Regions from separate parts of the Homo sapiens genome. Here region 1 is linked to region 2. The links come from fine-mapping of genetic effects on gene expression. A gene starts in region 2. The other region holds a variant in brackets. All regions are shown on one strand. Distances are between the middles of the regions.

Region 1 (8,329 bases), 53 kb before region 2:
AGGACGGCGTGAGATTTCATCACACTACTCAGAATGGTGTACAATTTAAAACTTATGAATTGTTTGTTTCTGGAATTTTCCATTTAAGGACCACAGTTGACAACAGGTAACTGAAACCATGAAAAGTGAAACCTCAGATAAGGGGGGCACTACTATATGCATATCCTTGGGAATGTATAAGTGCATTTTATTTTACATATTTGCAAACGCAACTATCTTGCAGTTTTCTTTTCTCAACTAGTGATCCCCTCTGAGCTCATTTCTTTAACTTTTCTTTATAATAACACTCACCTTGTAAGATTCTTATAGGACTTAAATGGAGTATGTGCATCTGAAACAATGCTTGGAACATAGTGGCTGATCAATAAACATTAATTGAAGAATGCAAATTGCTGACATTTACTGAGAATGGATTACATGTCAGGCACCATGCTAAGCACTCTGTAGGCATCGTCTCATTTTAACCTCATAAGAACTTTATGGAGTAGGTCATATTATTAGCCAAATATTAGTCTAGTGTTAGCCATATTAGACAAATGAATTGAAACTAGAATGTTGGGAGGTTAAGTCACTTAAGGTCACAGGACCAGCGAATGACATTGCTAAGATATGAACCATGGCCATCTGATGCCAGAGCGTGCTCTCTAATCATCTTGTTCTACTCAAATGAGAATAGTACATACATGTTTCTTCAAGAGGAAGTAACTGCATGCAGGCCCCACATGGTCCAAATCCATTCTTACAAGATAAATGTTTCTTGAAAGTGTACAGGTGGCAGTGCCAGAAATGTCTGATTTCAGAGCCTTTCTTAATCACAAGCACTGCTAAAGCTGAGTGTGTATTCCATTTATTGAAATAGGCCATATGCATGTTATTTTAAGTGATTTTATAATATTGTGTTGATGCAGACAATGATTCATGGTTTGCTTGATCTTTTTCTTATTTGGGGAATTTGAGATATGTCTTTATTTATGTTTGAGATATGTCATTTATATTGTCACTAATATAAATAACGTAGAAATTTTTTTTTTTTTTTTTTGAGAGCAGGTCCTTGCTCTGTCACCCAGGCTGGAGTGCAGTGGCACAATCTCAGCTCACTGCAGCCTCCATCTCCCAGGCTCAATCGATCGTCTCACCTTAGTCTCCTGAGTAACTGGGACTACAGGTGTGTGCCACCACACCCGGCTAATTTTTTGTAGAGATGGGGTTTCGCCATGTTGCCCAGACTGGTCTCGAATTCTTGGGTTCACGCAATCCATCCACCCACCCACTTTGGTCTCCCAAAGTGCTAGGTTTATAGGAATGAGCCACTTCACCCAGCCAGAAATTTGTTTTTATTTGTTTTCTTTTTCTTTTTCTTATTTTTGAGACAGTGTCTCACTCTGTTGCCCAGGATGGGATGTGCAGTGCCGCAGTCACGGTTCACTGCACCCTCAACCTCCCGGGCACAAGCAATCCTTTCACCTCACCCTCCCAAGTAACTGGGACTGCAGGCATGCACCACCACACCCAGCTAATTTTTGTATTTTTTTGTAGAGACAGGGCTTTGCCATGTTGCTCAGGCTGCTCTCAAACTCCTAGGTTCAAGCGATCCTTCTGCCTTGGCCTCCCAAAGTGCTGGGATTACAGGTGTGAGCCACTGTGCCCAGCTTGAAATTATTTTCTTCAAGTATGTTGCTTTAGCTAAATCACTGGACCCAAGGTGAAAAGTCGTATTGTTCTTATTAGGCAATTATACCAGATTGTTCACCAGAAAGCCTGAGCCAGTTTGCAGTGCCACCATCAGTATCTAAAGAGAAGTGGACCACTTACCTCCTCATCTGCCAGCACTGACTTTTCAAGTTTGATTTATGATTGCCAGTTCAGTAGATGTGTCACCATACAGTGAAGTTATTTTGCTTTGATTTTCTTTCTGTATTCTTGCTGAGTTGAAGCATTTTTCCACATAACAATGTGCTGCTTGTATTTTCTTTTTTATTTCCTATTTATGGCTTATTCTTTAGAAAGTCTAAGCACTAAGAATATATATAGCCAGACTTTTTATACAACTATGTATCAAATAAATAATATAGTATATTCATACACATGGATGGACCAGAAATTTAAAAATGGTTTCTGAGCTTGTCCAACCTGCAAAAAATGAATAAGTAAATAAAAGAAGATAAAAATGGTTTCTTAAGCCAATCTCTATGCACCACTTTATATAAAACAACTTTTGTTTAAAACTAAAGGAAATTTCCTCCTGACACTAGTGGACAGTACAACTGACTCATTAAGTCAAGCAGCTCCTCTACCAATATTTACTAAGTACCTATAGTGTGCTAGATACTATGCCAGACTGCAGACATAAAGCAATTGAAGGATGCTGAGCAGGTGAGTGCTCCAGGAAGATTGCTTTGGCAGCAGCTTGTCGGGTAGATGGGAGTAGGAAGAGCTGAAGTTGGGAAAGCTTAGAACATTGTACTAGATCAAGTCAGAGGGGTAAACTGGGGGCCCAAACCAGTGTCAGAGGAGATGGAGAGATGAGAGACTAGATGCAGGGGAATTCTAGGAGGTAGAATTGGCTGTGCTTGGTAACCGTCTGTATGTGGGGGACAGGAGCGGAAGGAGTTTGAGATGAACTTCAGGATCCCATTTATGCAGAAATTAAAACTCCATTTCCTACTATATTTGTATATTTTTTATAAATATATGAAGTAGCCTGGTGTATTAGTCCATTCTTACGCTGCTATGAACTGCCTGAGCCAGGCGTGGTAGCTTACACCTGTAATCTCAGTACTTTGGGAGGCTGAGGCAAGTGGACCACTTGAGGTCAGGAGTTTGAGACCAGCCTGGCCAACATGACGAAACCTTGTCTCTACTAAAACTACAAAAATTAGCCAGACATGGGGGAGTGTTCCTGTAATTCCAGCTACTCGGGAGGCAGAGGCAGGAACATTGCTTGAACCCGAGAGGCAGAGGTTGCAGGAGCCTAGATCGCACCACCGCATTCCAGCCTGGGTGATGAAGTGACACTCTGTCTCAAAAAAAGAAAAAAAAAAAAAAGAAAAGGAAAGAAAAAGAACTGCCCGAGACTTGGTTATTTATTTATTTATTTGTTTTTGCTGATGGTACATGAAATAATTTTTTTTTAAATTTTACTTTAAGTTCTGGAATACATGTGCTGAATGCGCAGGTTTGTTACATAGGTATAACAAACCTATGTAATGTGCCATGGTGTGCTGCACGTATCAACCCATCATCTAGGTTTTAAGCCCCACATGCATTAGGTATTTGTCCTAACGCTCTCCCACACCTTGTCCCCCACCCCATGACAGGCCCCAGTGTGTGATGTTCACCTCCCTGTGTCCATGTGTTCCCATTGTTCAACTCCCACTTATGAGTAAGAACATGCGATGTTTGGTTTTCGGTTCCTGTGTTAGTTTGCTAAGGATGATGGTTTCCAGCTTCATCCATGTCCCTGCAAAGGACGTGAACTCCTTTTTTATGGCTGCATAGTATTCCATGGTGTATATATGCCACATTTTCTTTATCCAGTCTCATTGCTGGGCATTTGGGTTGGTTCTAAGTCTTTGCTATTGTAAGTAGTGCTGCAGTAAACATACGTGTGCATATATCTTTATAGTAGAATGCTTTATAATCCTTTGGGTATATATCCAGTAATGGGATTGCTGGGTCAAATGGTATTTCTGGCTCTAATCCTTGAGGAATCGCCACACTGTCTTCCACAATGGTTGAACTAATTTACATTCCCACCAAAAATGTAAAAGCATTCCTATTTTTCCGCATCCTTGCCAGCATCTGTTTTTCCAGACTTTAATGATCGCCATTCCAGCTGGCGTGAGATGGTATCTTATTGTGGTTTTGATTTGCATGTCTCTAATGACCAGTGATGATGAGCTTTTTTCATGTTTCTTGGCCACATAAATCTCTTCTTTTGAGAAGTGTCTGTTCATATCCTTTGCCCACTTTTTGATGTTTGGTTTTTTTTTTTTTGTCTTTTTTTTTTTTTTTTTCTGAGACTTGAGTCTTGCTCTGTTGCCCAGGCTGGAGTGCAGTGACACAATCTCAGCTCACTGCAACCTCTGCCTCCCAGGTTCAAGCGATTCTCCTGCCTCAGCCTCCCAAGTAGCTGGGACTGCAGGCACGTGCCACCATGCCTGGCTCATTTTTTGTATTTTTAGTAGAGACGGGGTTTCACCATGTTAGCCAGGATGGTCTCAATCTCCTGACCTCATGATCTGCCTGCCTCAGCCTCCCAAAGTGCTGAGATTACAGGCATAAGCCACCGCACCTGGCCTGTTTTTTTTCTTGTAAATTTAAGTTCCTTGTAGATTCTGGATATTAGACCTTTGTCAGATGGATAGATTGCAAAAATTTTCTCCCATTCTGTAGGTTGCCTGTTCACTCTGATGATAGTTTCTTTTGCTGTGCAGAAGCTCTTTAGTTTAATTAGATCCCATTTGTCAATTTTGGCTTTCGTTGCAATTGCTTTTGGTGTTTTAGTCATGAAGTCTTTGCCCATGCCTATGTCCTGAATGGTACTGCCTAGGTTTTCTTCTAGGGTTTATGGTTTTAGGTTTTACGTATAAGTCTTTAATCCATCTGGAGTTAATTTTTGTATAAGGTGTAACAAAGGGGTCCAGTTTCTGTTTTCTGCGTATGGCTAGCCAGTTTCCCCAGCACCATTTATTAAATAGGGAATCCTTTCCCCATTGCTTGTTTTTGTCAGGTTTATCAAAGATCAGGTGGTTGTAGATGTGTGGTATTATTTCTGAGGCCTCTGTTCTGTTCCATTGGTCTATATCTCTGTTTTGGTAGCAGTAGCATGCTGTTTTGGGTGCTGTAGCCTTGCAGTATCGTTTGAAGTCAGGTAGCTTGTTGCCTCCAACTTTGTTCTTTTTGCTTAGGATTGTCTTGGCTACACAGGCTCTTTTGGGGTTCCATATGAAATTTAAAGTAGTTTTTTCTAGTTCTGTGAAGAAAGTCAATGGTAGCTTGATGGGAATAGCATTGAATCTATAAATTACTTTGGGCAGTATGACCATTTTCATGATATTGATTCTTCCTATCCATGA[A/G]CAAGGAATTTTTTTCCATTTGTTTGTGTCCTCTCTTATTTCCTTGAGCAGTGGTTTGCAGTCCTCCTTGAAGAGGTCCTTCACATCCCTTGTAAGTTGTATTCTTAGATATTTTATTCTCATTGTAGCAATTGTGAATGGGCGTTCACTCATGATTTGGCGCTTTGCTTGTCTATAATTGGTATATAGGAATGCTTGTGATTTTTGCACATTGATTTTGTATCCTGAGACTTTGTTGAAGTTGTTTATGAGCTTAAGGAGTTTTTGGGCTGAGACGGTGGGGTTTTCTAAATATACACTCATGTCATCTGCAAACAGAGACAATTTGACTTCCTCTTTTCCTATTTGAATACGCTTTATTTCTTTCTCTTGCCTGATTGCTCTGGCCAGAACTTCTAATACTATGTTGAATAGGAGTGGTAAGAGAGGGCATCCTTGTCTTGTGCCAGTTTTCAAAGGGAATGCTTCCAGCTTTTGTCCATTCAGTATGATATTGAGACTTGGTAATTTACAAAGGAAAGAGGTTTAATTGACTCACAGTTCCACATGGCTGGGGAGGCCTCAGGAAACTTACAAATATAGCCGAAGGGGAAGCAAACACGTCCACCTTCACATGATGGCAGGAAGGAGAGGTGCCAAGCAAAGAGGGAAAAGACCCTTATAAAACCATCAGATCCTGTGAGAACTCACTCACTATCAGGAGAACAGCAGCATTGGGGGTAACCATCCCCATGATTCAATTACCTCCCACCGGGTCCCTCTCATGACATGAGGGGATTATGGGAACAACAATTCAAGATGAGATTTGAATGGGGACACAGCCAAATTATATCACCTGGGCCTTGTGGGTCATGGTAGGGTATTTGAAGATCAGTGTAGTCACATCCAGGAAACAAAACCATCTGTTTAAATATGAAGGAGGAGCCAGGTGTAATGGCTCATGTCTGTAATCCCAGCACTTTGGGAGGCCAAGGTGGGTGGATCACCTGAGGTTAGGAGTTCGAGACAAGCCTGGCCAACATAGTGAAACCGCGTCTCTACTAAAAGTACAAAAATTAGCTAGGCATGGTGACATGTGCCTGCAGTCCTAGCTACTCAGGAGGCTGAGGCAAGAGAATTGCTTGAACGCGGAAGGTGGAGGTTGCAGTGAGCCGAGATTGCGCCACTGCACTCAAGCCTGGGTGACAGAGTGAGACTCTATCTCAAAAACAAAAAAAAAACAAAAAAGGTGAAAAAAAGTGAAGGTGGAAACAGAAGAGGAAATATTCTTTTTTGTTTTGTAACAGGGTCTTACTCTGTCAACTAGGTTGGAGTGCAGTGCTGTGAACATGGCTCACTGCAGCCTAGACCTCCTGGGTTCAAGCAGTCCCCCTGCCTCAGCCTACTGAGTAGCTGGGACTACAGTCATGTGCCACCATGGCTGGCTTGTTTTTTGTTTTTTGTTTGTTTGGTTGGTTGGTTGGTTTTTTTTTAGAGACAGGGTCTCACTTTGTTGCCCGGGCTGGTCTTGAATTCTTGAGCTACAGCAATCCTCCCGCCTCAGCCTCCCAAAGTGCTGGGATTAGGCTGAGCCACCACAACCAGCCTAAAATTATTCTTTAGGGCTGAGTTTCTGCCAGACTACTAAGTGGACCCTTTAGAGTTGAGTTTCACAGGGATCCATAGGCTCCAAGGAGAGAAGCTAGAACTAATGGTTAGGTGGTACAAGAAGCTTAGTATAAGGTAGTTCTGTGACAGAATGAGATGTCCTAAGTGAGGTCAGTTCCCTGTGAATCATGGTGTTTAGGCCAGAGGCTGAATGGCCACTTGCTGGGGAGTTGTAGCAAAGCTGTAAGTGCCAGAGTGAGTGGCTGTACCCTGATCGGCTTCAGAATGCTTTCTACTTCCAAATCAAAATGGATTTGATAACCTCTAGGAGCTGACACATCTGCTCTTGACATTATCTTTTTCTCTGAGTTTTTTTCAAGCCCTCTGTAGGCATAGCCCTCTAGGAAAGGTTGTCTAATGTAGTATGTAAGAGCACAGCTTGACTGGGACATCTTGTTACAACAACAAAAAAAAGCAAAATAGTCCTCAAAGTCTTAACAGGACTAAGTCAGAAAAACACTGGTACCAGCTGAAAGGGGCTCATACCACCCAAATTTGGGAATTTCTGAGCATCAAAAGAATGACAACAAGTAATTATAAAACACTGGATAAAAATCCATGTGTTTGGCTGGGCACGGTGGCTCACGCCTATATTCCCAGCACTTTGGGAGGCCAAGGCAGGTGGATCACTTGAAGTCAGTAGTTCCAGACCAGCCTGGACAACATGGTGAAACTCCTTCTCTACTGAAAATACAAAATGAGCCAGGCATGGTGGTGGGTGCCTGTAATGCCAGCTACTTGGGAGGCTGAGGCACGAGAATCGCTTGAACCTGGGAGGCAGAGGTTGCAGTGAGCCGAGATCGCACCACTGCACTCCAGCCTGGGCCACAGTGCAAGATTCTTGTCTCAAAAAAAAAAAAAAAAAAAAGTCATGTCTCCATAGTGATGCTCACTAAAAGGGCAAGAAGAGAAAAAATACATAGACCATCATCAGATGTGGCTATTTTACCAGTTTCTCACTCTGAAAGTAAATAATTAAAAGGAAAGAACTAAGCAATTACTCTGCCTTTTAAAAAGGAATTATAGCTGGGTGCAGTGGCTCACACCTATAGTCCCAGCACTTAGGGAGGCTGAGGCAGGAGGATCACTTGATCCCAGGAGTTTAAGACCAGTCTGGGCACAACTCTGTGCAGTCCCATGGCACAGACTCTGTGCACAACTCTGTGCAGTCCCACAGCAATGTCTAGTGGGGTACTCATGATCCCTGGAGCCACAGAAGTTGTTTGTTACACTGTGCTCTTTCAGCTTTGCCATCCTCTGATGGCTTAAGCATTTCACATCTCAGTATGACAGCCCTCTGTATCCCAACCTCTTGTTTGGCATCCAGGAGGTATCAGGTTGCACAAATGAATTGGAGATGGTAAATGCAGGGGATTTTATTGCTGATGAAAGTGGCTGTCAATGGGATGGAGAGCTGGAAAGGGGATGGAGCAGGAAGGTGGTCTTCCCCTCAGTTCGGTCATTCCTGGCTGAACTCTTCTCCGAGGTCCCGCCATCAAGGTGTCCGTCTGAAATCAAGCTGCTTCCCTCTGACTTCTGGCTGCTGCTTCTCTCTCCCTCTCTGCCACTCCACTGCCAGTGGAGCCTGGGGTTTTTATGAGTAC
Region 2 (8,329 bases):
TGTGACTGCACCTGCCCCTCAGCTGACCTGGTTCAGGGATCAGCCTCTGAGCTCAGCCCCTGCTTTGGGCTCCTCCTGCCCAGATGGCATCTCGGGCCTGGGTGAGAAAGGGCTGCAGGGTATGAGGTCAGCCTTTGCTGTGATCACTGCCCCCCAGTGGGCCAGCCTGGAGCTGCCAGCTGGGCAGCTGGGGGCAGGGCCTCGGGGGCTGCCTGAGCTCTGTCTGCTTTGCTGACGCTGTGACCAATCTCGTGCTCATCAGTGATCTGGGCCCCAGGCAGACCACCTTTCTGGGTCCATGGCCATTAGTCCAGTGCTCCAGGTGTAGCCTTAGGCCAACCATTGAACCCTTTGAGTCTCAGTTTCCCCATCTGTTTAAGATGAGGATTGTTCAACCTTCCAGATGGGCTTCTGTGGTGATAGAATGGCAGGTACTTGTCCTGAGGCCATCAGAGCTGCTGGTGACAGGACACCTTCCTGAACTCCTCCAGGCGCCTCTGATCTCTCCTTAGCTGCTGTTGTGTTACCTTCAGGTCAGTGAGAAGCTGCCCAGGACAGGGTCTGGAGGTCTAGATCCCAGGCTTAGCTCAACCTGTCTTGCCCCAAGACCATAGCCAAGTGCTCTGTGCCTCAGTCTCCCCATCTGTGCCAGGTGGTTGGTGCCAATCCTCTGAGGCCTCCAGGTGCCTGAGAGCTGCGGTGTCTGTAGTGTGAGCCCCTGTCCCCTCATCCTTCTCTGAGGCTGGGCCCTGCCCAACCTGCTCCAGGGACCAGTGGTCTTGGGAAGCTTGGGCTGACTGGGATTGCAGACTCCGGGTCTGGTGTATAGGGCCCTTGGCAAATCCCTATTCCTTTCTGGGCCTCCTTGAAGAGACAGTGGGCTGAGCTTCTAGGCTCCCTTTGATTCTTCTGTGTGTGGCCCAGAATGGGACAGACAGACTGAGCTGGGCACAGAAATACCATAGTGACAGAACCATTCGAAGACCCTGCCCTGATGGAGGCCCCGGGCCAGGGGAGGAGGCACAGTCAGGCTGTCAGCTGAATGGAAAATTACACTTTCGATGAGTCTGTTATCGAGTAGAGATTAGTGGGGCCAAGAACTAATCTGGGGGGCAAGTGATCCTTCCTGAGCCCTGAAGAGTAAGCAGCTGTCAACTAGATGAACGGGGAGAGAACATTCCAGGCAGAAGAAACAGTAAAGATCCTGCCGTGGGGTGAGGTGGAGCCGGGAGAGGGCGGACAGGGACCCTAGCAAGGTCTCAGAGCACGAGGGAGTTCGAGCTTTGCCCTAAGGCTTGGGAAGCCTTTGGAGGATTTGAAGGCTGGAAGTAACACCATCAGATGTGGGTTTTGAAAAGCTCCCTCTGGCTGCCAGGGAGAATGGGGTGGGCACGGGTTTGAGAGCAGGGAGCCCAAGGACCAAGCTTTGCTGTTGTTTAGGAGATGAGATGACAGTGGCTCTGTCCAGAGTAGTGACTGTGGGGATGGATCCAAAGGGTGGATTTGAGTTTAGGGGGAATTGACAGGTCATGGTGGCTCGATGTATGAGAGAAGTGTCAGGGCAATTTTGTGGCCTGGGCACCTGGCTGGAAGATGGGGGCATGGATGCTGAGTGGGAGAAGTGTATTTGACAGAGGGAAGGTGAGGAGTTTGATGTGGACCTGGCTGGGATGGAAGTGGCTGTGGGAGGATGGGGCAGAGGCCTCTGGTTGCACAGGCACCAGGCTGGCATTCGAGGCCAGAGCCTGGGATGGAGGTGTAGACCATGGGTGGGGGCAGGGGGAGTCCAGGCAGCTTCTGAGAGGCCAGACCTTGCAGGGTCAATTATGGGCCCTGAGGTGGGGGCCCTGAGGAGGGCCTCTCCAGTGATTGTGATCCAGAGCCAGGCAGGGGCGTTCCTGTCTTCCAACAACACCTGCCAGCAGTTCAGGGATCCTGGGTTTAGGGGGAGGTACCCAGCAGCGCCTCACACCCTCTCTCTCCCCCCAGATCCTGCTCATCTCTGATTACTTCTATGCCTTCCTGCGGCGGGAGTACTACCTCACACATGGCCTCTACTTGACCGCCAAGGATGGCACAGAGGCCATGCTCGTGCTCAAGTAGGCCTGGCTGGCACAGGGCTGCATGGACCTCAGGGGGCTGTGGGGCCAGAAGCTGGGCCAAGCCCTCCAGCCAGAGTTGCCAGCAGGCGAGTGCTTGGGCAGAAGAGGTTCGAGTCCAGGGTCACAAGTCTCTGGTACCAAAAGGGACCCATGGCTGACTGACAGCAAGGCCTATGGGGAAGAACTGGGAGCTCCCCAACTTGGACCCCCACCTTGTGGCTCTGCACACCAAGGAGCCCCCTCCCAGACAGGAAGGAGAAGAGGCAGGTGAGCAGGGCTTGTTAGATTGTGGCTACTTAATAAATGTTTTTTGTTATGAAGTCTACCCTGAGACCACATCTGCATTGCACTCCTAGAGGGGGTGGCCCCTAATAATGTTCTGGAACACTACACACAGGTGTGGGTTTCCAGAGCGAGCACCGCGGCCACAGAACACAAGTCTGTGCGCCAGAGCCCGGGGATGGTGCGGGCAGCCCCACCAGCACCCTCCCCACTCCCAAGCAAGCGGCTGGAGGCACAGGGCCAGGCAGGCCTGAGCAATCTTTATTCTGCAGAGGGACAATGACCACAGATCCATACACCACGTGGAGACCGAGGGGCGGGGAGCCAGGGGCCAGTCTTTCAGGGGTGGGCAGGTCCAGGCGGTGGGCAGAGCCTCGGGTGGGTGAGGGGCAGATGGGCAGACAGGCAGGGGCCTAAAAAAAAGATGAACCACACAGCAGGGGTGCTGGGAGCTGCTCCCCACCCTCCCCCATCCCACCAGCCAGCACCCAGAGGGACAACCCTAACACGACCGGCCCAGGATCCACCCAGGGGCAGAGTAGGTGGGTTGGTGCCCTCTGACTAGGGGGGCACATGCCTGCCCAGCCCACCACGGTAGAGGCAGCTCAGTTCAGGAACCAGGAGCTCTCTGGGCAGGGCCTGACCGGGGCCGCCCGACTCCCAGGCCGAGCCCCCCTACTGCTGGCTCAGAAGCCGAAGGTTTCCTGGGAGGCGTAGACCATATAGAGGAAGCCGTCCTCGTCTTTCTCCTGCTCGTAGATGTCCGCGATGGGCGTGGACACACTCACCATGCTGTGCTGGTTCACCAGCAGGAAGAAGGCCTGCGTGGGGTTCAGCTGCAGGCGGCGCCTGCAGCCGGCGGGAGAGTATGCAGCTGTGAGGGGCTTGGCTGCGGGACGGACATAGCCCTGACCCCCAGAATGATTCCCAGCCTTTCACACCCATTCTCACCCCAGCTGTCACCTCTGACCCAACACCGACTGCAGCCCCGACCTTGACCTTTCCAGCCACCCCAGAACAGGGGCCCACCGCCCGGTCCCATCACCCCTGACCCCACTCCCACCCCTTCTCGGCGGGAACCCGGCTCCCCTCCCGACCCTAGCCACCTCCTGGCGGCGGCTGCCCACGCACCGGATGATCTTGACCAACTCGCTCATGTTGACATGGTCCGGGACCAAAAACTTGGTCTTGTCCAGGACGGGCAGCTGCTTCTCACCCTTGTAGCGCTCGATGATCACCTGGGAGCAGGGCGGGCGGGCAGGGGGTCGTGTCGGGAACGCGCGAGGCGGGGGCGGGGCAGGGCTGGGGGTGCGGGACTCACCGGGATTTTGCTGGGGTGCTGGTCGCGGATCTGCTGTACCTCCTTACAGCGGTCGGCTGCGGACAGCGGCCAGACCGTGAGGCCGGGTCGGGCCGGCCCAGGTCCGCCCCGCCTGTCCCGGAGGGGCGGCCCCCGGCCACGCCCCAGCTCCAGCCCCCACCCCCGGGGCCATCAGGCCCCACAGCCCCTGGCACCTATCGCGGTGGGGAAGCGGGCAGCCCCCGCCCAGGCCGGAGCTGGTCCCAGCCCGAGGGTCCAGCCAGAGCCTGACGTCACGGGGCTGACGTCACCTGCGGCAGTCGGGGTCGGCCGGCACCCCTGCCCCAGAGCTCGCAGCTCGCCTGCCGGGCCTCACCGAAGCTCCGCCGCTGCTTGAAAGGCCGGTCTGAGGGCATCGCGCGGGCCCGGCTGGGCGCGCAGGCCGGGGCTCTGGGGCGCGGGGATGTGTCTGCGGTTTGGGGGCTCCGGGGGCTCCGCGCCTCGCGCTCAAGGGCTCCGGGGCTCGCGCTGAGCACGGCGGCTGCGGCTGCGGGAGGTAACTCGCCCGGTGACGTCAGGTCACAACATTCCTTAAAGGGGAGGCCAGTGCGCCGCTCCCATTGGGCCGACGCACAACCCGCCCGCCCGGACCCGTGACGTCACGGCGCAGAGAGCCTGGGTCCGCGGACCGGGACGCGAGGGGCGGGGCTTCTGGGCGCGTCACAGTCCCGTGACGTCATGGGCAGCGCGGGAGCTTCTCCCGCAGCCCGAACTCAAGGTAAGGCCCGGAGGGCGGTGGGGCCGCCCTAGGCCGATGGAGCGGGCGGGCCAGGCTGCAGCCCCACGGCACCACTTCCCGCCCTCACCGAGTCTGTGTCAGGACTGACGCGGTTCTGGGCGCCGTGGGAAACAGCCGGAGCCAAAGGCCCGGCGCCTTCACGGGGCTTAGGGCGAGAGAAGGGAGAAGGTGCGGGAGGCACAGTCAGACACAGGATAGAACAGGATGCTAGAAATGAACGCCCAGGTTTGAAAAAGAATAATATAATTGAAAAGTAGAGCCATCGAAATTCAGGTCTCAGAGGATGAGGTGAGAAGGCAGAAAAGGACAACAGAAGAGAAATCGTGGACCTGGAGGCTGATCGGAAGCAGCTCACCAGAGAGACAGGTGATGGGGAATAAGGAAAAGGGCACAGATGGCAACGCCAGGAGAACTCGCGGGCCCGAGCAGAGCTCCAGAGGCGAACACTGAAAGACCTGCAGAGACAGTTCCTGAAAAAGAGCTGCCAGAAATGATGCTTAAAATCCAGAGCAGAATGCGCAGACTGAAGATCAACATTTTTTTGGGGGAGGGGGGAGGGGGACGAAGTCTCGTTCTGTCGCCAGGCTGGGGTGCAGTGGTGCGATCTCAGCTCACTGCAACCTCTGCCTCCCGGGTTCAAGCGATTCTCCTGCCTCAGTCAGCCTCCTCAGTAGCTGGGATTACAGGCGCCTGCCACCACCCCCAGCTAATTATTGTATTTTTAGTAGAGATGGAGTTTCACCATGTTGGCCAGGATGGTCTCGATCTCCTGACCTCGTGATCCACTCGCCTCGGCCTCCCAAAGTGCTGGGATTACAGGTGTGAGCCACCACGCCTGGCCGCCGAAATAATTTTTAAAGAATGTAGTTTAGTAACAAGGACATGGAACCCAAAAGGAAGAAATTAGATGGAAAAATGGTGAGCAAATTGGTAAACATGTGAATCTAAACAAGCATTTAATATGCAATATGAATAATAATGATTAATTTGTGGGCCACAGAAACAAGATGCATGAGACACAAGAACATGGAAGACTGAGAGGGCAATTTGAGAGGGGGTTAAAGAGACTGAGCATTGTCTGGCTTTGTAAAGTCAGGTGTGTATTTCAGATATTTAAGAGGATCACCAAAAGAATACAAACGGAACTATAACTGCCAATGCAGAGAAAAGGGTAGTGATGGGTATTAAAACTATAATGGAAGGCAGAAAGGGAGAAAAAGGAAGCAAAGTAAAAGGGATGGTAAATATATAGTACAAAACCAGAGGTAGAAAATGTGGTTTACATTCACCTCTTAAAACACAGATGACCAGATTGGCCAAGAAAAAATAAGATGCAGCTCTATGCTATTTACAAGAGGAAATTTAAAACCTAAGGGCACCAAAAAGTAAAACGATGGGAAAAGGTGTACTAGAGAAAAACTAACCAAAAGATGTACCTATAGAAAACTCAGACAAAATAGGCCTTCAGGCAGAAGACACTGGGGATAAGAGGATCAACATGAAATGATGCGAGGAGGAACTCTGTGAAGAGAGGAAAGTTCTGAACTTCTATGTTCCAGGGTTTTTGTTTTTAAGGCTGAAAATAGGCCAGGCGCAGTGGCTCATGCCAGTAATCCCAGCACTTTGGGAGGCCGAGGTGGGTGGATCACTAGAGGCTGGGAATTCAAGACCAGCCTGGCCAACATGGCAAAACTCTGTCTCTACTAAAAATACAAAGATTAGCTAGCTGGGCGTGGTGGTGCACGCCTGTCATCCCAACTACTCAGGTGGCTGAGGCACAAGAATTGCTTGAACCTGCTAGGCGGAGGTTGCAGTGAGCTGAGATTGCGCCACTGCCCTCCAGCCTGGGCAACAGAGTGAGACTCTGTCTCGAAAAAAAAAAAAAAGAGGCTGAAAATATATTAAGAACACAAGGAGAAATTGCCAGGTCCTCCATCATAGGGAGACATAAGACCTCTTTGAGTAACTAATAAACCAAACAACCAAAAAAAAAAGGACATAGAGGATGTTAATACAGTTACTAATCAAGATCAATGAACCCCAATAGAAAACCTGACAGTTAGTTTTTTAACTTTTAAAATTTAAATTTCAGACCTGTGTGAGACCAACACATTATTTTCAATCACACAAGGAACATTTACAAAAATGACCCAACTACTAGGGTGCACGACAAATCTCAACAGATATCAAATCAGTTTCAACCATATTCTTTGGCCACAGACAAAAGCCGCGTAAGCTCCAGCTGTGTGGAAATTTAAACCTATTCTAAATATGAAGTCATATATAAATAAAAATTATTTAGTTCAAACAAAAAATGAGGATACATATGCTAAGAAAACTTGGTGGCCGGGCGCAGTGGCTCACGCCTGTAATCCCAGCACTTTGGGAGGCCAAGGCAGGCGGATCACGAGGTCAGGAGATCGAGACCATCCTGGCTAACATGGTGAAACCCCGTCTCTACTAAAAATACAAAAAATTAGCTGGGCGTGGTGGCGGGCGCCTGTAGTTCCAGCTACTCGGGAGGCTGAGGCAGGAGAATGGCTCGAACCTGGGAGGCGGAGCTTGCAGTAAATGGAGATCGCGCCACTGCACTCCAGCCTGGGCGACAGAGCGAGACTCCATCAAAAAAAAAAAAAAAAGAAAGAAAACTTGGGAGGGGGGCCATGGCAGGCCAGGTGTGGTGGTTCATACCTGTAATCCCAGCACTTTGGGGGGCCCAGACTGGAGAATTGCTTGAGCCCAAGAGTTCAAGGCTGCAGTGAGCTGTGATTGCAGCTCTGCATTCCAGCCTCGGTGACAAAATAAGATCCATTTCTTTAAAAAAAAAAAAAATCAGATTTATAGCCTTATTACATAGATGTATTACTTAGATAATAAATACAGAAAATCCATGAGCAGAGTTTCAAAGAAATTTAAGAAGGAGTAATAGTGTAATCCTAGCACTTTGGGAGGCCCAGGTTGGAAAATCATTTGAGCCCAGAAGTTTGAGACCAGCCTGGGCCACATAGTGAGACCCCGTCTCTACAAAAATGAGAAAATTAGGCCAGGCACAGTGGCTCACGCCTGTAATCCCAACACTTTGGGAGGCTGAGGTGGGCAGATCACTTGAGGCCAGGAGTTCGAGACCAGCCTGGCCAACATGGCAAAACCCTGTCTCTACTAAAAATACAGAAGTTAGCTGGGTGTGGTGGTGCATTCTGTAATCTCAGCTACTTGGGAGGCTGAGGCACAAGAATTGCTTGAATCCGGGAGGCAGAGGTTTCAGTGAGCCAAGATCATGCCACTGCACTCCAGCCTGCGTGACAAGAGTGAGACTCTGTCTCAAAAAAAAAAAAAAATAAGAAAATTCGCTGGCTTTGGTGGCACACACCTATAGTCCCAACTACTCAGGAAGGATCGTTTGAGTGACAGAGGCCCTTTCTCAGAAAAACAACAAAAAATGCTGAAAACAAACAAAAAACAACAACAACAAAAAATAGGCCAGGTGTGGTGGCCCACACCTGTAATCACAGCACTTGGGGAGGCCAAGGCAGGCAGATCACTTGAGTCCAGGAGTTGTAGACCAGCCTGGGCAATATGGTGAAACCCCATCTCTACAAAAAAAAAAAATACAAAAAATACAAAATACAAAAATTACAAAATACAAAAAAATTAGCTGGGTATGGTGGCACGTGTCTGTAGTCCAGCTACGTGGGAGGCTGAGGCATGAGAATTGCTTGAACCAGGGAGGTGGAGGTTGTAGTGAGCCAAGATTGTGTCACTACACTCCAGCCTGGCGACAGAGCGAGAGACCCCATCTCAAAAAACAAAAACAGGCCGGGCGCGGTGTCTCATGCCTGTAATCCC

Evidence for each region.
Region 1: its variant is fine-mapped to the expression of MAP1LC3A in whole blood (INTERVAL, PIP above 0.99).

Annotation. Positions count from the first base shown.
Region 1 is chr20:34,607,336-34,615,664 of GRCh38, reverse strand. The region is part of intron 7 of PIGU (phosphatidylinositol glycan anchor biosynthesis class U); the gene reads left to right. Among named protein-coding and RNA genes, the nearest start is that of MAP1LC3A, 53 kb to the right of the region's middle. The variant A/G (reference allele first, on the strand shown) is at 5,079.
Region 2 is chr20:34,554,640-34,562,968 of GRCh38, reverse strand. MAP1LC3A (microtubule associated protein 1 light chain 3 alpha) reads right to left here and starts at 4,251. Exons shown (of 4, transcript NM_032514.4): 1 at 4,061-4,251; 2 at 3,706-3,761; 3 at 3,516-3,622; 4 at 2,624-3,233. The coding sequence starts at 4,100. The coding sequence ends at 3,071. PIGU (phosphatidylinositol glycan anchor biosynthesis class U) reads left to right here. Exons shown (of 12, transcript NM_080476.5): 12 at 1,990-2,427. The coding sequence ends at 2,103. RefSeq lists silencers at 2,446-2,495, 4,070-4,119, 4,460-4,549.